3 separate regions of the Homo sapiens genome follow, and all the other regions are linked to region 1. Evidence: fine-mapped expression QTL. A gene starts in region 1. Each other region holds a variant in brackets. All regions are shown on one strand. Distances are from middle to middle. Region 1 holds the start of ARFGEF2 (ARF guanine nucleotide exchange factor 2). Region 2 overlaps ARFGEF2 (ARF guanine nucleotide exchange factor 2). Region 3 overlaps CSE1L (chromosome segregation 1 like).

Region 1 (8,183 bases):
CCACAGAGCAAGATCCTGTCTCAAAAAAAAAAAAGAAAAACTGAATAACTCAAATGAAACTTATGTGTAACCAGCTCTTTACTCTCATTTCCTTCTTTCCATTAGCCCCTAATTAAAGTAAACCTAGTATATATGTAGTAAAAACCTGAAGAAAAGAGCTGTGATCTTTTTGACTCAAGGCTTTCAAACATATCTCAAAATTCAGCTATAGAAAATACAGTCTCCTGAAACTCCACTGCGGTATACTGATTGTTTTAAAAACTCTACTGAGTATTTCAAACATAACAACTTTCATATGGAGAAGCAAGAAAACATGGTAGTAATAGTTAAGATCTTGGACTATGGAGCCAGATTGCCTGTGTTTATACCCTGGTTCCATCACTTACTGAGTTACCCTGGCCAACTTAACTTCTCTGGGCCTCAGTGGGAATGATGATAATAGTGAGAACTAAATTGCATGAAAAGCCCACTTTACTGTGCCTGGAACTCAGAAATGCTTAGTACATAGGAGATATAATACAACATGTGATCTTTAAAAGTCATTCAATTTCATATGAAAATACGTATGTTTACTATTCTTTTTAAATTTTCTTGATAATGGCTGAGAATAATGACAACTAGTAATTATAGAGCACCTAGCCATTACTTAGCACTTTTGTGTGAGGGTCTCACCCTGCTGTCTCGGCTGGAGTGCAATGGCATGATCTCAACTCACTGCAACCTCCATTTCCTAGGTTCAAGTCATCCTCCCACCTCAGCCTCCCAAGTAGCCGGGACTACAGGCATGCACTACCACACCCAGCTAATTTTTATATATTTTTTTAGAGATGGGGTTTTGCCATGTTGCACAGGCTGGTCTCAAACTCCTGGGCTCATGCAATCTGCCCACCTTGGCCTCCTAAAGCGCTGGAATTACAGGCATGAACCACAGTGCCCAGCCATAGATAAATTTTTCCATATCGAATTTTAAATAGATTATCCTATTAAGCCTCCAAACTTCATATAGTTTAAGAGCAGAAACATAACTTAAAGATACATGATGGGAGAAGATGAGTCTTAAATAAGACAATTATAAAAGGGAGGTTTAAGAATGTAATTATATTCTCCAACAGAGGGCTGAAAGGTTGAAGATTATTAATATATATCAAAGTTTCATAACAAGGTAAAGAGCAACAGTATCCTTGGGGCGATGAATACTCTCACAGGCTGTCTTGATTTCTCCAGATAAAGGTTGGAAGGGCACTATCCCCTACTTGGGCAGTCCCTATTTATGCTTTTGGTGTATAGTGCGGACGAATCATTGAGATTACTCCAAATCTGCTCCATCATGATTATCACAATTTTTACAAAGGACAACCCCTGTCTTCATTGAGTTTAGGAAGTTAATACTCCAACACAGCCTTTCAATCACGTAATTACATTCTTATTTACTGCATCTACAAACCAAATAGAGCAGTAAGTCATTCCTGAACGAGGAACTAAGGTTAAGAACATCAAACCAGAGTAATTACAGCTGCTGTGGTTTGTCACAGCTTAAAATAATAATAATAAAAAAGTAATAGCAAGCATTTACTGAGCACCTACTACATGCCAAGTTTTTTGCACATGTCAATTAACTTAATCTTTACAATAATCCTATAAGGAAGTAACTTGTCCAAGATCACAAACGTAGCAAGTGGAAGGCAGGAGGTTTGAACACAGAAGTCTAGGGTCCCAAAGAATACACTCCTAGCTAACATCTACACTATACAGTCCCTGCAGCCCTGATCCTCTCCCCTAATATGCTACAGCTGGTGGAATCATATCACAGAAGCTGTTTCCTGTAAATGCTCTCTATCATCCAAGCATTTCAACTTTGAGCCGTCATTTACAGTTCCTCTTATCACAATTAACAACAATCTATACATGGTAATCTCTAAAATACCACATAGCTGCTCCTTATACACTGGCTCGTTTCAGCCTTTTTTTTTTTTTTTTTTTTTGAGACAGAGTCTTGTTTTGTCGCCCAGGCTGGAGTGCAGTGGCGCAATCTCAGCTCACTGCAAGCTCCACCTCCTGGGTTCACGCCATTCTCCTGCCTCAGCCTCCCGAGTAGGTGGGACTACAGGTGCCCGCCACAGCGCCCAGCTAATTTTTTTTGTTATTTTTAGTAGAGGCGGGGTTTCACCGTGTTAGCCAGGATGGTTTCGATCTCCTGACCTCGTGATCTGCCTGCCTCAGCCTCCTAAAGTGCTGGGATTACAGGCGTGAGCCACCGCACCTGGCCCCAAATTTCTCTTCTTAAATGGGACTACTGGACACAAGACTGGGCCTTGAGAGACAGAGAGAAATATCACCAGGCATTCTGCTATGTGTTCTACTCTAAGTAAAAGCAGTCATTTCTATTTAACAGCAATGACACACAATTATTCTCTTAAAAAAGATGGTCACTTAACAATATGCATACGTTCCCTTATGACAGTTCCTATTATGCCATTGGCACAACCCCAATTTGTGATTCATATAACCTGTAGTCAAATTACTTCCTATCTAGGCCATTTTTTACAATTCACTACTAAAAACTGAAAACATGCATTCCACTACTTGTGTTAGGAAAACTTGAACTTCTGAACAAAGATACGATCCGAAAATATCTATTAAATTCTCAGCGTTAATGGCCCTTCATGACCCAGATGAAAATTTTATAAGTAGGTTCCAATAATATGATGCACACTTTGGTGAAAATTTTATGTTAAGAAGTTTTCTGAAGAAAAAATAAAAACTCTTCTGCCAAATAACTATTCTGAAACCTCCACAACAATATCGAGAAGATAGAGTCCAGGCAGATTTCAACGTGGAGTTATAAATACCAGGCTCTTGCCTAACAAACTGCTTTGCAGTGCTTATCCCACATTGCTGATAAAATACCCAACAGCCTTGGTTATTGGAAGAGAAAAGCTTTAAAAATCTACATCTCAGTAAATTCCTTCCACTGATCCTGAATTTCACGGACTAGCAACTGTTTCCAGATTATCTAGACTACCACCTCTGCATCAATAGTTGGCCCCTGAGGGAGTCTCAGGGCCCTCTGAAAATCTGATGAAAGCCAGGGACCTTCTTTCCAGGGAAGTGCAAAGTTCACCAGCCTATTTCTAAATGCCAAAAGAACACTACTCTATACTTTGTAGCAAATGAAAGGAGAAAGGTGATAACAATCTCAAACTATGTGACTAAAAATCAAACTTTCCATTTGCTCATTTTGTTAGGAAAAACAGGCCTTTACAGATTCCAAACCAAAGACGTTGGGGCAGTGAATTAGCTTGAAAACAGCTCTGGTCAAATGCATGGATTCTCCCACCAAGAACTCTCTTCTGAAACTCCATATGGTGGATAGTTCTTGCCTTTCAGTATTCAGCTCAAGTGTCACCCTCTTGGAAAAGATTACTTTCCTGACCACCTGATTACTTTTCCTCTTGGAAAAGATTACTTTCCTGACCATGGAAAGCAGTCCTCAAGCCCTCTTTATCACATCTTGCTGTTTTATTTTCAAAATAGTATTTATCAGTATTCCAAAATACCTCACCTATTTTCTTAATTAATTATTTTGTCTCCTCTATTCGAGTATAAGCTCCATAGGGGTAAGGACCATGTCCGTCTTGTTCCCCACTGAATTCTCAGTACCTGGTATGCAGTGGGCACTTGATAAATATTTGTTAAATGATTAAAACTGAAAGATAGGATAGTGATTTTGCTATCAATTATCAAGCCTTTAACTATTAGTTAGAATTCTCCCTCTTTCCATAATCTGAGGGTCCATTCAATCAGCAAATATTTATCGAGCACCTACTGTGCGCCAGGCACTGTTGCAAGCGCAAGGGATACAGCAATGAATAAGTCAGACAAGTATCTTCGCGCTGAAGACCTTGTATTTTAGTGGACTGCTAGGAATAAGCAGATGTCTTGCTCACTACAATGCCTGGGAGATCCAGAACACCTTCTACAATCCTTCCTTGAGGGAAAGAGCTATGGGAGATCCCCAAACCAAAGGAAAACATTCTCCAACGGGCACTTCCAAAACAAGAATCAGGGGTTTCCCTAAACCAGTTGGACGGCTCTTCCTACATGCTCTGTTCACCTAGGGGAACCCCAATCAGCAGAGCTCAGGTAACGAAAAAACTTGGGGCAAGGGCTACTGTTTCTAGGACTTGGAGGTGGTGAGGGGAGGAACCAGGAAACAGGGCGACAAGGAATCGTGGCAAAAGCCCTGAGCTGGAACCCTGAGGAACAAGCTCTGGTTGTCACCAACTTGCTAGGTGACCTTGGGCCAGTCCCGAGCTGCCCGGGCAACACTTCCTCCGGGGGTATAATGAGGAGGAGGCCGGAAGGGTGGAATTCGGGATCGGGGGGAAGCGGAGGCCAGGAGGCCGGGCCAAGGCCGAGTAGGATAGGGCAACGGCCGACGTGCTGAGGCCAGCGCGGGGCAGGGCGGGAGCGGCTCACCCACCGAGCGCCACCTGGCAGGCCCTGCGCAGCTGGGAGTGCTGGGGCCGCTTCACCTCCTTGTCGGCTAGGATCTTCTCCAGGGCCCGGGACACGAACATGCTCTTGGTCTGGCTCTCCTGCATGGCCCCGGCCCGGCGGGGGCTGACGGCCCCGCGGGCGGGCGGCGTGAGCGAGATGGCGAGCTAGGCTGCGGGCCCGGCGTCCCGGCCGGCACCGGCCGCGTCCGTCCGCGCCGCCCCGTCAGGAAGCGACACCTCGGCCCCACGGCGCCGCCATGTTGGAGCGCGTCACGTGACCACGTGACTGGCGAGGCCGCTACGGCCGCCTAGCGTCCGTCGGCCCCGTGACCCCCAGCGGGGCGGAGCCTAAGGCTGGGGGCGGAGCGGAGTCAGGTGGGCGAGAGACAGAAGGCGAGGGTGGAGGGTGGAAGAAGAGAAGGTGGGGAGGGGAGTGGGCATGGGCGAAGGGTATAGGGGACGCGGGGGCTAAAGAAAGGCGAAAGCGGGGAGAGGTGGTGATGGAGATGAGAGGAGAGAAGCGCAAGGTAACGGGAGGTGAAGGGGAGCACGAGAATGGAGATGACGTGGGTAAGAGAGGAGATGAGGAAAGGAAGGGGAACGAGAGGATTGGCAAAAAAGAACGGTGACAAGGAGAGATGATAAAGGGGCAGGAGGAGAAGGCGAGTAGGAAAGAAAAGAGGTGAGGGAGCGAGGACTGGAAGCTGGTGAATGAATGAGAAGTGATCGGGAGTAAGGGGCGTCAGGAGGAAGGAGGAAGGGCGATGAGAAGGCGGCGGCGGAGGGGAAGGGGGGAGGCCCGGCGCGGCGGCTCACGCCTCTAATCCCAGCGCTTCCGGAGGCCAAGGCGGGAGCATCGCTTGAGCCCAGGAGTTCGAGACCAGCCTGGGCAACATAGGGAGACCCTTTCTCTACAAAATAAAAAGTAAAACAGCCGGGCCTGGTGGCGCTGCTTGTGGTCCCAGCTACTGGGGAGGCTGAGGTGGGAGGATCGCTTGAGCCTCGGAGGTTGAGGCCGCAGTGAGCTGTGATGGCACCACTGCACTCCAGCCTGGGCCACAGAAGGAGACCCTGTCTCAAAAAACAAACAAACAAAAAGGAGGTGAGTTAGTTATGGAGGAGATGAGGTGGTGTGGGAAGAGGTGAGAGGGAGGCACAGAGGTAAAAGAAAAAGGAGAAAGACAGGAGGGAGAGGGGAAGTGAAAAGGAAAGAGAGGTAGAAATGAGAGGAGGGGAAAGAGTAGGAGAAAGGGTGAAGGGAGAGGAGGTAGGAAGGGGAGCTGTCAGGAAGAACAGAAAAGAAAGAAAAAGATGAGAGTAACAAGTTAGGAAAACAGGAAAGAGATGGAAAAAGGAATGGTGTAGGAAGGAGGTGAAGGGGAAGGAGGTGAGGAAGAGTGGAAAGAACATGCTGGGAGAATAGGAAATGGAAGGGGTGGAGGGAGAGGGGAGGTGAAAGGAAGACAGAGAGGGAGAGAGAGAAGGTGTGTTTATGTCTATTCTCCACAAGCAGGGTTTCACCACAGCCACTGGCAAGATACACACATCCATATGACCCTCCTGTCACAGCAGCAGTGACCTTGCAGTTCAGTGAACTTCTGTTTATTGAGTGTCGCAGCTGTGCATAGTATACCAGGAAGCACTGACCTCTCTCTGTAGTTTATCCTGTTATAAACCTGTGAACCCTCACAGTGCAGTGAACTGGACCTGGGCTTTGGGAGTCAGGGGAAGAAACCCAGATGGCCAGTGTCACACAGCCTGCAAATGAGTGCTGGGGGACAGATACTCTGGCCCCAAGGCAGCTTCCACTCCATTCCACAATGATGCTATCACAGCAACCATTAGTGGTGTCCCCTGGGCCCCTTCCCCCAAGGGCAGCCATGGGCTTATGCAAAGACAGTTGTCTTCCTTGGAAACCTCAGAGGCACAGACATCCCAGGCAGGCATGCTCCAGTGCTCGGGTCTTAGCTCAGACGTCTCTGGGAAGCCTTCCCTGACCTGTCTCAAGTAGCCCCCTCTCTCCCTAGCTGATGTTTTCCACAGCACTTTCTGAGCTTTTGTACGTGTTGACTATTTGTTGTCTCACTAAAGCACGGTTGCAGAGGGGCAGGCCATATCCCCAGGGCCCGGTCTACAGTCACGTTGAATATTTCATGGCCTTAAATTCTGCAAGTTCCACTGCTTGTAATGCGATTTCGCAGTCACTCCCAGCAAGAGGTAGAGTTTGTTTCTCCACCAGCCTGAACCTAGACTAGCCTTGTGGCTGGTCTTGACCAATAGAATGTGACAGAAAAGAGGCTGCACAAGTCCCAGAGCATCAACAGCCCTGGCTCACTTCTTCCTTTACTGCCTGGGAATGCTGAATGACACTCAGAAGCAGCCCTGGGCAGGTCAGTGGCTCATGCCTGTAATTCCAACACTGGGAGGCTGAAGTAGGAGGATCACTTGAGCCCAGGAGTTCGAGACCAGCCTGGGCAACATATCAAGACCCTGATGCTACAAAAAATTTAAAAAATTATCCAGGAATAGTGATGCCTGCCTGTAGTCCCAGCTACTTGGAGGGCTGAGGTGGGAAGATTGCTTGAGCCCAGGAGGTGGAGGCTGTAGTGAGCCGTGACTGCCCCTCTGCCCTCCAGCCTGGGAGACAGAGCAAGACTCTGTCTCAAACAACAACAACAATAATAACAACAAAATGGTAGCAGCCCCAGAAGAAAGAGCACGTGGATAGGGAGCCCAGTCATTGCAGCTCTCCCAGCCGACCCACCAGCTGAATACAGCAGCACAAGTGACTAGTGAGACCAGCAGAAAAACTGCCCAGCTGAGCCACAGAATAGCAGAAAACAAAAAATCATTACTTTATGCCACTACATTCTGGGGTCTTGCTTGTTACACAGCAATAGATCACTGAGACACACCTCAATCCTTATGTGTTGAATGAATGAATGAATGAATGAAATTCTCTAGAGTACAGTGCAGTCTGCTGAGTAACATGTTTTGATCCCACCCCACTCCCCCCAACACACACACACAGCAAGGCCAGACTATGTCACTCCCCTGCCGAAAATCCAACAGAGGCTCCCTATTGCCCTTGGAATTGAGTCCAAGTTCAGTATCATACTGTGGCCAACAAGGTGTGATAGAGGCCCTGCCATTTTCTCTGAGCTCATCTCCTTCCTGCTTTTCTTCAGGACTCTGGCCACTCTGGGCTCCTTTTTGTTCCCATCAAGGGCTTGTCTTACATTTTTCTGTCCCTCTTAATCAGTGCTTCTCCATGAAGGCAGTACCACCCCCAGACGCATTTTGAAATTTTGTTGGGGGGATATTTCTGTTGTCGTAATAGAGGGAACAGGAATGCTAGATAACATCCTGCAGAGAGCTGAACAATCCTATGTAACAAACAATTCAATGTATGCCACATGGCCAGACACTCCTGGAGATGAAAAACTTATTGATAATGATCTGAGCCTAGAATCTAAATCTGCTTTACATATAAAATGTTTTTTGCTGTAGTTTTTTTGTTTGTTTGTTTGTTTGTTTTGAGATGGAGTCTCGCACTGTCGCCTAGGCTGAAGTGCAGTGGTGTGATCTCCACTCACTGCAACCTCTGCCTCCCAGGTTCAAGCGATTCTCCTGCCTCAGCCTCCTGAGTAGCTGGGATTACAGGCACCCGCCACCACGCCTGGC
Region 2 (8,183 bases), 120 kb before region 1:
AATCACTTGAACCTGGGAGGTAGAGGTTGCAGTGAGCTGAGGTCGCACCACTGCACTCCAGCCTGGGCGACAAAGCAAGATTCTGTCCCCCCGCGCAAAAACAAAAAAAACCCCAATCTGTCTAATGTAAGGAAAGACATTCTGAAAAGACACATTGTCTATGGTGTGCTCCTTGAGGAAGATAACTTTACATTTTATTTGGATCCAGAAGGGCGTGGACACATCTGGTTATGCTGGGAAAGAACAAGTCTTATGTCTCAATCTCGCTTTTAAAGCCCAACTGAGATGCAGAAGAGTGTTAACAGCTAAACATTGAGAAGTATCTGATTGTTGTTTCTTATCTTTTTTAAAATGGAGGCACTTTAATTTTTTTTTTTTTTTTTGAGATGGAATCTCACTCTGTTGCCCAGGCTGTACAGTACAGTGGCGCGATTTTGGCTTACTACAACCTCCGCCTCCCAGGTTCAAGCAATTCTCCTGCCTCAGCCTCCCAAGTAGCTGGGACTACAGGCGCCCACTACCACACTCAGCTAATTTTTGTATTTTTAGTAGAGATGGTTTCACCATGTTGGCCAGGCTGGTCTTGACCTGACCTCAGGTGATCTGCCCACCTTGGCCTCCCAAAATGCTGGGATTACAGGCGTGAGCCACTGCACCTGGCTTATTTCTGTTTAAATATATGTTTATATGTTATAAAAATCTACACGTTTGAGACTAGCCTGATCAACATGGTGAAACCCCATCTCTACTAAAAATATGAAAATTAGCCGGGCGTGGTACTGTGTGCCTATAATCCCAGCTATTTGGGAGGCTGAGGCAGGAGAATTGCTTGAACCCAGGAGGCAGAGGTTGCAGTGAGCTGAGATTGCACCATTGCACTCCAGCTGGGCAACAGAGCGAGACTCCATCTCAAAAAAACAAATCTACTCATACAAAATGGGAAATCTCCTTTATTAATTAGGATATAAGTTGTAGGTAATATATTATGTCCTCTATTTCCTTATTTTATATTTTTTTAATTAAAAATTTTTAAATGTATATATTTAAATTTTTTTTTGTAGGGATTGGGTCTCTCTGTGTTGCCCAGGTTGGTCTCAAACCTCTGGGCTCAAGTGTTCCACCCACCTTGGCCTCCCAAAGTGCTGGGATTACAGTGGCTCACTGCAATCTCCGCCTCCCAGGTTCAAGCGATTCTCCTGCCTCAGCCTCCCAAATAGCTGGGATTACAGGCATGTGCCACCACACCCAGCTAACTTTTGTACTTTTAGTAGAGATGGGGTTTCACCATGTTGGTCAGGCTGGTCTTGAACTCCTGAGCTCAGGTGATCCACCTGCCTCCGCCTCCCAAAGTGCTGGAATTACAGGTGTGAGGCACCACGCCTGACCTAGAAGTGTATTTTTCATGCTTCTTGATGGGAAATTATATTTTTTCCATCCCTTCAAGTGGGATTTTTAGACCTGCCTTAGACCTGGGCAAGCCTGCAGACCTTTGCCGTGCCCTTGCTTTAGAGGGCTTCGTCCTGGCCCTCCTCCAGCTGCTCCCTCCTGCCCGTTAGCCGAATGGGTGTGCACATCTAGAACCCATGCCACTCCCTTTGAGACCACACTGCAGTTGGACAGGGCCCTGGAATTCCCAACCCATAGGGCCCTGGCCTGTGGATACCCTTGCCTGGGTCACTTCTTCAGAGGGTGGGCTGCACAGCAGCTTGTGAGCACTCCCATGCTGGAAGGGTGACTTGGGTCAGAAAGGGGTTTGCAGGGAGTTTGGACAGGAATGGGCTTCCATGCACACATGCAAAGCCTTATGGTGCAGGGTGAAGCCTGAGGTGGAGAGAGCAGGGTGCTGGTCTTGGGCCAGCCACCCGGTGCTGCTGCTTTCTGGTGTGGAGCTCTGAGGAGCCTGAGAATTCCATCTTTGACCTGCCCTTCCAGATCTTTACAAAGGTACATTTATAAAGGAAGGAAGATAGACTGTCTTATTCAAAAGTTTTACGTATAGTTTTTCAATGTTGACCCTCAGAGCATGGGAGCCGACATTTGTATTTCTGCCCTAGAGCCTGCAAATGTTAGTCCTGTGCTAAGTGTGTTCTCTGTCCACAGGAGCCAGGGCCCCATATTATCTACCGCTGTCCATCTGCTCTCCAGCACATCAGAGCAGCCCTTCCCCTGTGTGAGATTCCTCTCCAGGGCAAGACTTGAAGGGAGCATCAAGGTTGCAGTGGAAGAAATAAATTGGAAGTGGAGCTGGGCAGTTATTTATTTATTTAAATAGAGACAAGGCCGAATGCGATGGCTCACACCCGTAATCCCAGCACTTTAGGAGGCCGAGGTGGGTAGACGACCTGAGGTCAGGAGTTCAAGACCAGCCTGATCAACATGGCGAAATCCCGTCTCTACTAAAACTACAAAAATTACCTGGGCACGGTGACACGCACCTGTAGTCCCAGCTACTCAGGAGGCTGAGGCACAAGAATTGCTTGAACCTGGGAGGCCAAAATTGCAGTGAGCCAAGATTGCACTACTGCACTCCAGCCTGGGCGACAGAGCCAGACTCCATCTCAAAAAATATATATATATAAATAAAAAATAAATAAATAGAGACAAGTCTCACTGTGTTGCCCAGGCTGGTCTCGAACTCCTGGGCTGAAGCAATCTGCCTGCCTTGGCCTCCCAGAGAGCTGGGGTTACAGGTGTGAGGCACGGTGCCAGGCTAGATCTGGGCAATGTTTAGGAGGCGGGCTCTAGAGCCAGGCTGCAGGGCTTCAAATCCCTCTGAGTGTCCTAAGTCAAGTTTGTCAACCTCTCTGAGCCCGTACCCCTCTATAAAAAGGAGGGATGCTGGTGATGATGATAATAGTACCTACTTTACGGGGGTTATTGTGCGAATTAATGGCTGAAGAATGGTTGAAATAGCAAGAGTCAAAAACATGATCAATATGGAAAGCCTAGCAGGAGAAAGTACTAAAGTTCATTGATGGGGAGATGGGGAGGGGGACAGATGGGGTCTCACCGTTTCCCAGGCTGGTCTCAAACTTCTGGCCTCAAGTGA[T/C]CCTCCTGCCTTAGCCTCCCAAAGTGTTGGGATTATAGGCATGAGCCACTGTGCCCAGCCATTAAATTCTCCTTCTTTCCTCTTTTGGTGGAAGGGAAGGGAGAAGTGAGACTTTACCAGGAGTCCATGGAATGTGGCCCAAAGGCCAAGGACAGAGTACCTTCCAGGACTCTCTCAGAGGGCAGCAGGAGCCCAGGGCTGCTTTCTGCCTATGACAGGTGTGCAGTAGAAGTGGGTCTTCAGAGGCTGGGCGCAGTGTCTCAGGCCTGTAATCCTAGCACTTCGGGAGGCAGAGGCGGGCAAATCACCTGAGGTCAGGAGTTTGAGACCAGCCTGGCCAACATGGTGAAAGCCAGTCTCTACTAAAAATACAAAAATTAGCCAAGTAATTTTTTTTTTTTTTTTTTTTTTTTGAGGAATCTTGCTCTGTGGCCCAGGCTAGAGTGCAGTGGTGTGATCTCAGCTCACTGCAACCTTGGCCTCCCAGGTTCAAGTGATTCTTGTTCCTTAGCCTTCCAAGTAGCTGGGACTATGGGACTACAGGTGTGTGTCACCATGCCCAGCTAATTTTTGTATTTTTCGTAGAGACAGGGTTTTGCCACATTGGCCAGGCTGGTCACAAACTCTTGACCTCTAGTGATCTGCCCGCCTCAGCCTCCCAAAGTGCTGGGATTACAGGTGTAAGCCACCACACCTGGCCCATGCCTGATAGTTTTGATTCATCATGGATAATCTGTCATTAAAAGAAATTCAGGGCCAAGTCCAGTGGCTCATGCCTGTAAATTCCAGCACTTTAGGAGGCTGAGGTGGGAAGATGACTTGGGCCTAGGAGTTTGAGACCAGCTGGGGCAACGTAGCAAGACCCTGTCTCTACAATAAAATTTAAAAAAATTAGCTGGGCATAGTGAGGTGTGCCTGTAGTCCCAGCTACTGGGGAGGCTGAGGCAGGAAGATTGCTTGAGCCCAAGAATTTGAGGCTGCAGTAAGCTATGATGGTGCCACTGCCACTGCACTCCAGCCTGGGAGCCACAGCAAGATCCTGAATCAAAAAGAATTCATCTGAGGGTTCACCAAGTTGCTGATGAGTCTCTAGAAAGTACAAGGAGAATCCTGGGTTTAGCCATTGAGTCTCAGGATGCAGGAATCAAGATCATCACAATACTGGATAAACAAGGGGAACAACTCAACCACATAGAAGACATGGGCCACAAAAATACAGACATGAGAGAGGCAGAGAAGACTTTAACAGAACTTAACAAATGCCATGCCCTTCGTGTCTGTCCACATAATAGAACAAAGAACTTTGGATGGCTTGGGCACGAGAAATTGAGGCTGCAGTCAGCTGCAATGAGGCCACTCACCCCAGCCTGGGTGACAAAGCAAGATCACGTCTCTTAAAAAAAAAAATTGGAAACATTGACAAAGACAGCCAAGAAGAAGGAAGCTGTAGAAGTGTTTTTTGTTTGTGGTTTTTGTGGTGGAGGGAGGGACAAGAGATAAGAGGTTAACCTCAGCAAAAACCTAGCTGGGCATGGTGGCACGTGCCTGTAATCCCAGCATTTTGGGAGGCTGAGGTGGAAAGATTGCTTTCTTTCCACCTGGGATGTGGAATCACACATTCTATGCACACCTATGAATCACTAAGACTTCAGAAGTTAAGCTCCCTTTAAGAAAACTCATTCTTTTTGGAGCAGAGGTTGCAGAACTGTGATCCCTAACAAAAATACTGTGTATAAAAGCTCCAAAACGAAGTATTAGCTTAAAGTGGCAATAACTACAACTTTATAACCAACTAAATCTTTACCGTGGCTATGCAACTTTTTGCTTTGTGGCCAGAAGGTTTTTTTGGTTTTTGTTTTTTTGAGACAGGCTGTCACCCAGGCTGAAGTGCAGTGGCACAAACAAAGCTCACTGCAGCCTCGACCTCCTGGGCTCAAGCAGTCCTCCCCACCCCAGTCTCCTGGGTAGCTGGGACTACAGGCGTGTGCCACCACACTTGCTATTATTATTTTGTAGAGATAGGGTCTCACTACATTCCCCAGATTGGTCTCAAACTCCTGGCTTCTAGCAATCCTCCCACCATGCCAGACCCTAGACTTAAAAAGTTAGAATTGGCTGGATGTAGTGGCTTACACCTATAATCCCAATACATTGGGAGGCTGAGGTGGGAGGATCACTTGAGCCCAGGAGCTGAAGACCAATTTGGCCAACATAGTGAGACCCCCATCTCTATTTTTAAAAAAAGTTAGAATTTATTGTGTTACTAAAAGTGATTTGGAAAATTATACCTTTAGTTTAATTATTGGGGAATTACACTGTCAGTCTCTTACCCTTGTGTATAGAACTATGTCCAGAATCAAATTTATGTAGATCCTAAACACTGTTATGGGAATCTGATTAGTATTTGTCACATTGACTTAAAAATTAGCATCTCAGTTGGCGTGGTACTCACACCTGTAATTTCAGCACTTTGGGAGGCCAAGGTGGGAGGATCACTGAGGCCAGGAGTTCAAGACCAGCCTGGGCAACATGGTGAAACCCCAACTCTACAAAAAAATACAAAAATTAGCCAGGCAAGGTGTCTCACTACTGGCCCTATAGTTCCGGCTAATCAGGAAGCTGAGGTGGGAGAATTACTTGAACCAAGAAGGTTAAGGCTGCAGTGAGCTGTGATTGCACCACTGCTCTCAGCCTGGGCTACAGGGCAAGACCCTGTCTCAAAAATAAATAAATAAATTAGCATCTGAATATTTCAAAGCTGTCAATGTGTACTGGCTGAACCAATAGCCACTACTTGATCCTTACAATTACATTTTGTAACTAGCAACAACAAAGTTAATAGATTCAAGAGGCATATAAAGAATCTCATGACTAGAATTTTCCCCCTTTCATTGGTGAGGGACATAAACTGACCCAAAACTACGGCTTGATATATGTTTTTTAAATTACTACACATTAGAAACAGCTATACTTTTTAAAATTTTATTGATGTACCACCTGATCAAAGCATGGGATATTTTAATAGTATTATACATAATATTTTTACATAGAAAACTTTACATAGCATTTCATATTATATAATTCTGCTTATTCTTTCAAAAATTTATACATCCATTGGGCAAGGAATGGTTTTCATTAAATTACCAATATTAAATGCACTTAATCATTGTGTATAGGTTAAACCAAAGTAACTATTAACTAACTTTTAGGCATTTTAAGGAGGTAAAACATACATTTTACACATAAATATTTGATGCAAATATGCAGATAAAATTTTTTAAAAATTAGAACACTGAGTAAAACACCTTTGATAGATTATATTGTTTTGTTTTGAGAGCAAGGATTTCCAGATATGTTCATTCTTTAAAACACTCAGCTTTGGTTTCTTTGTTTCCCAAACTGCAAAGCTGCTGATAACAAAACTCCAGGATTCCATGTGAGTTCAGCTATGTCTACTTTAACACAAATATTAAAACAGAATTCAGAAAATGCAGTATTAAGGATCCAGCTTCTATTGAAACCAATATCCATTTGCATCATAACAACAAACATTTGAATGAGATGGTCACACTTGTACTTATCAGCAGGTTCCTTTAATAACAAAGACTACTAAATGTATATCCTTAATCACAAAAGAACAACAAAAAAAATACAGGTTTTTTTTTTTTCATTTCGTACAAAAGTCACCTGCCAGAGGAAAATGTTGTGTTTCCAGATATTATAATACAATTTTCATAATGTATGTTCTTTGGTTGTACATGAGGAGTACAGGGAAAAGATATATTTGACTCTAAAGATGCGTATCAGAAATAAAAATTACCCATCCACTGTTTGTTGTTAAGATGCCAAAGCTGGTGATTTCCCTAACAGACAATGAAGAGAAACAAAATTGCTCAAAGCAGCAGTATTGTAACAAATAAAAACTTCTCTAGAGACCCAGCACATATAATCAACACTTAAAGCATTCTGAAAAAGAAATAAGGCCTTGGAAAATGTTTCACTCTCCTCCATTACTTGGTTAAATAAATGGTGTCCTGGCCTGATGTTGCGGTTGTACATACCCTTTCACTAGTGTTTGAGTGGCACAAGCCACATTTACCATGAGAAAGAAGAGATTTATTCATAAAAATGAATTTAGGCTGAATGGCTTATTATTGGAGGTAAGGGATTTCAAATCTCTGTTCGTCACTGTCCACTGACAAGAAAAATCACCCTGAATGGTTTTACATCCAATTTTTTAAAAGTCCATTGCTGGTACAATTCAAATGCCTCATTCAGAAAATTAAATCTTTTAAAATACTAAACTAATAAGAAATGTAAGCCTGAATGTTTCAGCAAGTAATAAAATGCACTGACACATCTGCTACCCCTCAAGAGGCAAAATTAAAGAGAGGGCAGAAGACACCAGAAAAATTTTAGTCACATCCGATGAAGAAAATGACATGAGAACCTCAGAAGGAAAGGAAAAATAACCAATCAGGGATATAGCTGCACGCAAGATGGACTTAATGAATGAACACGTGTTCCCCATGTATACCTTTTGTACAAATATCAATGGAGACGACTGACTTGTTGAGGTGATGACGCGCTATGATACCAGGGAGTGTAGGTTTCATGGTGCAGTGTAAAGGTGCAGTGGATTCCAGGGCAAACCAGTCAAATGTGCTAACATTTTCCACTCACAGTAAAGTATTCTCCCATAGTCCCTTCCTGCTAAATTATACAGCTCCTTTTATCTAATGTATATAAGTCATGTAAAAACCTAAACCTGCTCATTTTTTCTTTGGTAGAGAAATTAAAAAACACTTTTTGGGAAAGAAAAAAGTAGACAAGAATTCTGCTGGCCAAAACCAAACATTTCTCAAGGCTGTTAAAACAAGAAAACAACTTAAGAATATCGGTCTCTTAGTAAGCAAAAGCACCAGAAATCCTTCTCTACAAAGAAAAAACATCTGATTTTACAGATAGGTTCCCAAACTACTAACTTCTAAGGCACCAGAGTTGACATCAATACAACCCAATTTACAGGACTAAAGAGCATAGGTAGAAGTCTGAAAGTTTTAATCATTCTGTGTAACACTTTGTCTAACGCTCAGCGATGCTCTAGGTGAGCAGTGGGTGAGGGCAGAGAATG
Region 3 (8,183 bases), 140 kb before region 1:
AAGATGGCGCCACTGCACTCCAGCCTGGGCAAGAGTGAGACTCTGTCTCAAAAATAAATAAATAAATAAATAAATAAATAAATAATAATAATAATTTTTCCACCGGGCACGGTGGCTCATGCCTGTAATCCCAGCACTTTGGGAGGCTGAGGCGGGTGGATCACGAGGTCAGGAGATGGAGACCATCCTGGCTAACACGGTGAAACCCTGTCTCTACTAAAAATACAAATAATTAGGTAGGCATGGTGGCGGGCGCCTGTAGTCCCAGCTACTCAGGAGGCTGAGGCAGGAGAATGGCGTGGACCCGGGAGGCGGAGCTTGCAGTGAGCCAAGATGGCGCCACTGCACTCTAGCCTGGGCGACAGAGGGAGACTCCGTCTCCAAAAAAAAAAAAAAAAAAAAAATTTTTAATAGTGTTGGCAACAGCTTTCTTTGAAAGTCTAAGAAGATTAAAGATTAGAGCCATTAACTTCCCTTTATCCAGGAACACATTACTTCTTTATACACTAATAAACTAATTTTTCCTCTCAAAAATCACAAAGACTTTTCTAGAAGAGGATAGATGCATTAACATGTTCATGATTCTAGTCATCATACATAATATATAACACACATTCTCTTCCTCATGGAACCCTTCCAACATCCTCTATGAGCATGCACATTGGTAAGTTTTGAAGAAACAGGTCAAGAGCATTTTAATATGGCCCATATCAAGGATCAATAACTGACTGCTCACAAGATATATCTGGCCCAGAAGTAGTTTGGCTTGCACTGTATTTCAATTTTTTTTTTTTTTGAGACAAAGTCTCACTCTGTCACCTAGGCTGGAGTGCAGTTGGGCAATCTTGGCTCACTGGAACCTTCACCTCCTGGGTTCAAGCGATTCTTGCACCTCAGCCTCCCAAGTAGCTGGGGTTACAGGCACATGCTACCATGCCTGGCTAATGTTTGTATTTTTAGTAAAGACAGGGTTTCACCATGTTGGCCAGGCTGGTCTCAAACTCCTGACCTCAGGTGATCTGCCCTCCTGGGCTTCCCAAAGTGCTGGGATTACAGGCGTGAGCAAATGTGCCTGTCCAATTTTTTTTTTTCTTTTGAGACGGAGTCTTGCTCTGTCACCAGGCTGGAGTGCAGTGGCCTCGGTTAACTGCAACCTCCGCTTCCTGGATTCAAGCAATTCTCCTGCCTCAGCCTCCCAAGTATCTGGGACTACAGCCGTGCACCACCACGCCCAGCTAATTTTTGTATTTTTAGTAGAGACAGGGTTTCACCACATTGGCCAGGATGGTCTAGATCTCTTGACCTCATGATCCGCCTGCCTTGGCTTCCCAAAATGCTGGGATTACAGGCGTGAGCAAATGCACCTGGCCTTTTTTTTTTTTTTTTTAAGACAAGATTTCCCTCTGTCACCCAGGCTAGAGTGCACTGACATGATCATAACTCACTGCAGCTCCGACCTCTTGGGTATAAGTGAAGCTTTTGTCTCAGCCTCCCCAGTTGCTAGGAATACAGGCACACATCACCACACTTGGCTAATTTTTAAATTTTTTGTAGAGACAGGGTCTTGCTTTGTTGCCCAGGCTGGTCTCGAACTCCTGGACTCAAGGGATCTTCCTGCCTTGGCCTCCCAAATTACTGGGATTAAAGGCGTGACCACCAACCCTGGCTGTGTTTCAAAATATTTTTTTTTTTGGGACTACGTCTCGCTCTGTCACCCAGGCTGGAGTGCAGTGGCGCAATCTCAACTCACTGCAACCTCCACCTCCCAGGTTCAAGCAATTCTCCTGCCTCAGCCTCTTGAGCAGCTGGGACTACAGGTGTGTGCCACCACACCCAGCTAAGTTTTTGTATTTTTTAGTAGAGAAGGGGTTTCACCATATTAGCCACGATGGTCTCGATCTCCTGCCCTCGTGATCTGCCCACCTCGGCCTCCCAAAGTGCTGGGATTACAAGCGTGAGCCACCGCACCCGGCCCCAAAATCTTTTGAAGTTACTTGCTAACATTTAAAAATGAGGGCACTTCATATAAATATCCTTATTTTTCAAGCAAAACTGGAAATCTGATCTTGCAAAACTAGTCTGAATCCCCAAAATTAGCTAGTTCCAAAAAGTACTTGCCACTTAATCAGGGCATGTATTCTCCTGATATTACCAGTCTCCACTTGGCCTATCTCCCTCATTTAACTTAACAGCTGAGTCCTGTGAACACCTGAGTTCAATATTTTAATTCTACGTTTTTAATGGAATCTGGTCAGATTCAGGAAGGAAAAAAAAAGCTCTAGGTCTTAAAATATATTAGTTAAATCAAACCCAATAGAAAATTAAAATTAAGAGACAGTAACTGATTACTTGGCTTCATTCACTTAATCACTTTTTAGGCAATTACTCTCCTTTCTATGCCCTAATTATTTTATCTCTAAAGCAGGCTTTTTTTTTTTTTTGAGACGGAGTCTTGCTCTGTCGCCCAGGCTGGAGTGCAGTGGCGCAATCTCGGCTCACTGCAAGCTCTGCCTCCGGGGTTCACGCCATTCTCCTGACTCAGCCTCCTGAGTAGCTGGGACCACAGGCACCCGCCACCACGCCCGGCTAATTTTTTGTACTTTTAGTAGAGACGGGGTTTCACCGTGTTAGCCAGGATGGTCTCCATCTCCTGACCTCGTGATCCGCCTGCCTCAGCCTCCCAAAGTGCTGGGATTACAGGTGTGAGCCACCGCATCCGGCCTAAAGCAGGCATGTTTTAAGTGGGTATTTTGGAAAAGGTCAAAGACAAAGCATTCTAAACATGTCAGTACTTTTTATCCGAAAACTAGTACTTTTTAATCCCAGAAGATGCCAAATAAAAGCTATTTTACTCAAAAAAGAAACAACACACCATGGTATAGCAGCTGTAACACTTATAAACTACGCTTGAGAACCCAAGTATGAATTTTTTAAAATATATTTATAAGGAGGCAGATAATACATAGGTTTCTCTCACCTGTCCTGAAGGAATTAATCAACCAAAAAACGTTTATTTTCTTTACCTGGACGTCGGATGGCAGGATCAGGATCAAGTGTTTTCTTTAAATATTCTGTTAGTGTTTGCAGATTTGCATCGCTGAGTTCCATTGCTATAGGATCTAAAATATAAAATAAGGTTTGGATAACTGGTCACTTACGGAAAAAGTGATTTACATTTAAAGAAATCCGTTTATATTATGGGTTATTCTCTCTGAAAGTCATCCATCTGTTGTTTTTTATATGGGCAGTAAACCTGACTCTGAGACAAGAGTCCAGCAAATGAGATGTGCCTTTTCCCCCAAAAACAATAGTGAGACAATTTTGTGATAAGGGAGATGAAAAAAAATCCCAAAATTTCAAAAAGATAGTCATAGAAAAAAAAGCTGAAGGACTGCTCGAAGTCACCAAGAAGTTTATATGATTTAATGCTATGGGAAAGGGCTAATAAAGGTTAAGAAAAAAAAAATCACTGGAGGAACTTATTAAAGAAGCCCCATAAGGAGCCCGGGCAGTGGCTCAGGCCTGTAAATCCCGACACTTTGGGAGGCTGAGGTGGGTGGACTGCTTGAGCTCAGGAGTTAAGAGACCAGCCTGTCAACAGGGTGAGACCCCATCTCTACCAAAACTACAAAAAAATTGAAGCCGGGCATGGTGGCTCATGCCTGTAATCCCAGCACTTTGGGAGGCTGAGGCAGGCGGATCACCTGAGGTCAAGAATTTGAGACCAGCCTGGTCAACATGGTAAAATCCCGTCTCTACTAAAAATACAAAAATTAGCTGGACATGGTGGCAGGAGCCTGTAATCTCAGCTACTTGGGAGGCTGAGGCAGGAGAATCGCTTGAACCCGGGAGGCAAAGGTTTCAGTGAGCTGAGATCGCACCATAGCACTGCAGCCTGGGCGATAAGAGCAAAACTCCGTCTCAAAACAAACCAACCAACCAACCCAAAAAATTAGCCAGGCATGGTAGTGGGTGCCTTCAGTCCCAGCTACTCGGAAGGCTGAGGTGGGAAGATGTCTTGAGCCTGGGGGCAGAGGTTGCAGTGAGCTGAGATGGTGCCACTGCACTCCAACTTGGGTGATGGAGCAAGACCTGTCTTAAAAAAAAAAAAAAAAAAGGCCCCACAACGAGAAATTAAAATTTTAAACAGCAAATAAATATCCCACATAAAGTTCTGAGATTAAAGAAACAAGAAATTCCTTCATGTACAACATGTAATCGCAAATACTACAAAGTGCTAAGAATTTGCATCTAGGGAGATAAATTCTAGAGTTCAGAAGATGACAGCTAAGATTATGATTCTAGAAGTTTTCATATTTAAAGCTTAAACAAAACTAAATCACATAATATGCTTATAACTGACCAAAAAACTTCACATCTAACAGATGACAAATTAAAAAAAAAATTTTGTAGAGACAGGGTCTCACAATGTTGCCCAAGCTGGTCTCAAACTCCTGGACTCAAGTGATCCTCCTGCCTTGGCCTCCCAGTGTGCTAGGATTACAGGCGTGAGCCACCGTGCCCAGCCCACAAATTTTAAGCTAACTAAATGGCCTACGTCGATTTAACTACTAACAACATAGGCTAAGAAATACACAGTTCAAGAGATTTATTGTACAACAAGGTGACTATAATAATGTATTGTACACTTGAAAATTACTGGGTATATTTTAAGTGCTTTCACCACACACACACACACACACACACACACACACACA[CACACAG/G]CATGTGAAGTAATATGTTAATTAGCTTGATTTAGCCATTATACAATGTATACATATTTCAAAACATGCATACCACAAATATATACAATTTTGTCCATTAAAAATGGGAAAAAAAGGAGTCTGAACCCACTCAATTAAAAGGAAAATGAAAAAACACACAGAAACAGCACATACACAGAGTACAAGTGTCAGATGTGCATGATTACCAACAGATCACAAATCCTGGGAATCTTATCAATTGAGCTTTATGGTCTCCAACTTGTTGGTGAGACGATAAAATTAGGTGCAAACTGAGGGAACTTTTTGGGGGTGACAGAGTGTTCTAAAATTGGACTGTGGTGACACATGCATAATCTACATAAATTTACTAACATTTCCCAAACAGTTCACTTAAAATGGATAAATCTTATAGTATGTAAATTGTACTTCAATAAAGCTATTTTAGGCTGGGCGCGGTTGCTCACGCCTGTAATCCCAGCACTTTGGGAGGCTGAGGGGGGTGGATCACCTGAGGTCAGGAGTTTGAGACCAGCCTGGCCAGCATGGTGAATCCCGTCTCTACTAAAAATACAAAATCAGCCGGGCATGGTGGCATGCACCTGTAATCCCAGTTACTTGGGTGGCTGAGGCAGGAGAATCGCTTGAACCTGGAGGCAGAAGCTGCAGTGAACCAAGATTGTGCCACTGCACTCCAGCCTCAGAAAGAGCGAGACTTTGTCTCCAAAAAAAAAAAAAGCGATTTTAGAAAACTCCACTTATGCTTAGATTCCATTAGGCAGCTTTTAGATATATAGCCACATGTAGATGGGAAAGTGGAGCCCTTTCAGGGAAATCATGCACCAAATTAACCAGAGGCTTCTATGAAAAAGAAGAAAAAAACTAAACACACAATTTTTGTAAAATGTAAAAAAGGTCAGTGGAAAAAGTTCAAGGATATCATAATTCAAATTATGAAAAAAAACTTCACATATAGAAGAAAACAAAAAACACACTCCAAAATGTAGAACAGTGATAACATCTCGGTGATAGATATAAGGAGAGTTTTATTCTCTTCATACTTTTCTAATCTTACAATCACATATCTATTATACATTTACAGTAAGGAATTTAAAAAATTTTATTATTTTTTCAGACAGAGTCTTGCTCTGTGGCCCAGGTTGGACTGCAGGGGCATGATCATAGCTCACCACAGCCTCAACCTCCAGGGCTCAAGCCCCAACCTCCCACCTCAGCCTCTTGAGTAGCTGGGACTACAGGCGCAATCAACCATGCCTGGCTAATTTTTGTATTTTTTGTAGAGATGGGGTTTCACCATATTGCGCAGGCTGGTCTTGAACTCCTGACCTCAAGCAATTTTCCTGCCTCGGCATCCCAAAACACTGGGATTACAGGCATGACCCACCATACCGGGACCCATTTATTTTTAAAATGCCTATGACAATATGCAATCAAGTTCCTGTCCTAGAAGGAGCTTCTGTAATAGTTCAGAAGACAAGACACAACTGAAATGCCAAGTACAGGCCTATATACCCTTTACTAAAGTGATGAAATCCAAAAATAAAAAAACTTAAAAGTTTGTTTTTTAACAAGTTTGTGGCAAACTCACTTGGCAGCAAAACCAGCCTGAACTGCCTGAGGCTATCAACATAGATTTATCTCACTTAGTATGCAAATTTGTTTCACTAAAGAAATATCAATACGTTTGATTACAGGGTGCTACCCCAAGCCCCACTGGGGATGTTGTATAATCCACAGTACATGCATCCAAAAAAAATCCCAAATTCTGAAACATCTGTCCTCTGAAGTGCCAAATGAATCACAAAGACAGCACCTTAAACGTTAGAAAATTAAGAAGGGAGTCACGGGGTTATGTGGCCATCCAAGAGTTTCCCAGAGCCTGAGCCTTGAGCTGAACCTTGAAAAATATGTGTATCTGAATAGGCAAAGTAGGATGAGGGCGCATCTGCCAAAATGAATTGTGAGAGCAAAGTAACAGAGATGGGAAGAGAGAATAGTGGGCTAGGAGATCAAGACCAGATCATATAGGTTCCTCCATACTTGGCTGAAGAGTGCCATGATTTAATGTATGGGGAAGTCATGAAGGTTTTCTTAAGTGGGTAAAAATGTAATGAAAGTGGAGTAGAGGACCTTTGGGCTGGTAATGGTTTGCAGAATGGGGGAAGTGTCACATGTATGAACCAGGCACACGATGCTAGATGTTTTCATAGGCTTCATATCATTTATTCCACACAATGATTTTACACACAAAGAAGGGCACTCAGGTTGACATATATTAACTATATATGGTTAATAAATAAAGATCAGATTTAAATCAGTCCAACTCCGTAGGTCTACCCTCTTTCTATTACCCAAGGCTGCCTCTTAGGTGGAAATGACAGACGGCTGACCAAGAGTGAAAGCACTCACAACACAATAGAAAGGCTGATGTGAAAAGAGGGCAGCCAGAGGACAACTGAGCGGTGGGGAGCCAGAAAATAAGAAAATATTATCTAATGCTGTGCTTATGCAGGGCACTCCCCAACAGCCAGAAACCCCAACCTTCTAAAGAGAATTATCTGTATTCTACATGCTGCAGTCCTTCCCCTTAATTAGAAAATGTGTTTATCACAGGAAGCTAATGTTCTGACTGAGTAGATCCCACCACCTACCTAATCACTCCCTCTAATCCAGGTGTTCCACTCTATAGGTGTGAAAATCAAGTCCCATTAAACCACACATACAATCTATTGAGAGGCTATACCCTTTATGGTTTTTTATATCACAAGTTTGGAAAATGCTACACATTATATCCTGCCCCACTTTGGAGATTCACAATACAAAGCACTTTAAACTCACAAAGTTACTGGTTCACATCAATTAATCCAGAGTCTCCACTGGTGGGAGGCTGAGGCAGACGATCGCTTGAGCCCAGGAGTTCAAGACCTGCCTGGGCAACATGGCAAAACCCCATCTCTACTAAAAATACAAAAAATTAGCCGGGCGTGGTGGTGTGGCCCTGTAGTCCTAGCTACTTGGGAGGCTAAGGTGGGAGGATTGCCCAGTCTCTCCCATTATTTGGCTATAGAACTCCTTTTCAATAGAACACACTTTGGAAAGCAATGATTTAATCCATTTATTTTCCTATTCCTTTTTTCTGTATTGAAATGGTGGATCAGTTATGAAATCATGAAAGTTTGGGCCAGGTGTGGTGGCTCACACCTATAATCCCAGCACTCTGGGAGGCTGAGAGGGGCAGATCACCTGAGGTCAAGAGTTTGAGACCAGCCTGGCCAACATGGTGAAACCCCGTCTCTACTAAAAATTAGCCATGCCTGGTAGCACATGCCTGTAATCCCAGCTACTTGGGAGGCTGAGGCAGGAGAATTGCTTGAACCTGGGAGGCAAAGGTTGCAATGAGGCGAGATTGCGCCATTGCACTCCAGCCTGGGCAACAAGAGA

The links. PIP is the estimated chance that this variant, and not a neighbour inherited with it, causes the effect.
Region 2: its variant is the best candidate, but not a certain one, in a credible set for the expression of ARFGEF2 in whole blood (INTERVAL, PIP 0.59).
Region 3: its variant is the best candidate, but not a certain one, in a credible set for the expression of ARFGEF2 in whole blood (INTERVAL, PIP 0.54).

Annotation. Positions count from the first base shown.
Region 1 is chr20:48,918,311-48,926,493 of GRCh38, reverse strand. ARFGEF2 (ARF guanine nucleotide exchange factor 2) reads right to left here and starts at 4,783. Exons shown (of 39, transcript NM_006420.3): 1 at 4,484-4,783. The coding sequence starts at 4,604. RefSeq lists an enhancer at 4,073-4,152 and silencers at 4,523-4,572, 4,613-4,712, 4,943-5,022.
Region 2 is chr20:49,034,528-49,042,710 of GRCh38, reverse strand. ARFGEF2 (ARF guanine nucleotide exchange factor 2) reads right to left here. Exons shown (of 39, transcript NM_006420.3): 39 at 6,018-8,183. It overlaps CSE1L-DT (CSE1L divergent transcript), which reads left to right. Exons shown (of 2, transcript NR_110625.1): 2 at 2,101-2,248. It also overlaps the pseudogene SNAP23P1. Among named protein-coding and RNA genes, the nearest start is that of CSE1L-DT, 7.4 kb to the left of the region's middle. The variant T/C (reference allele first, on the strand shown) is at 3,050.
Region 3 is chr20:49,053,389-49,061,571 of GRCh38, reverse strand. CSE1L (chromosome segregation 1 like) reads right to left here. Exons shown (of 25, transcript NM_001316.4): 2 at 3,024-3,119. The coding sequence starts at 3,108. Among named protein-coding and RNA genes, the nearest start is that of CSE1L, 11 kb to the right of the region's middle. The variant CACACAG/G (reference allele first, on the strand shown) is at 4,719.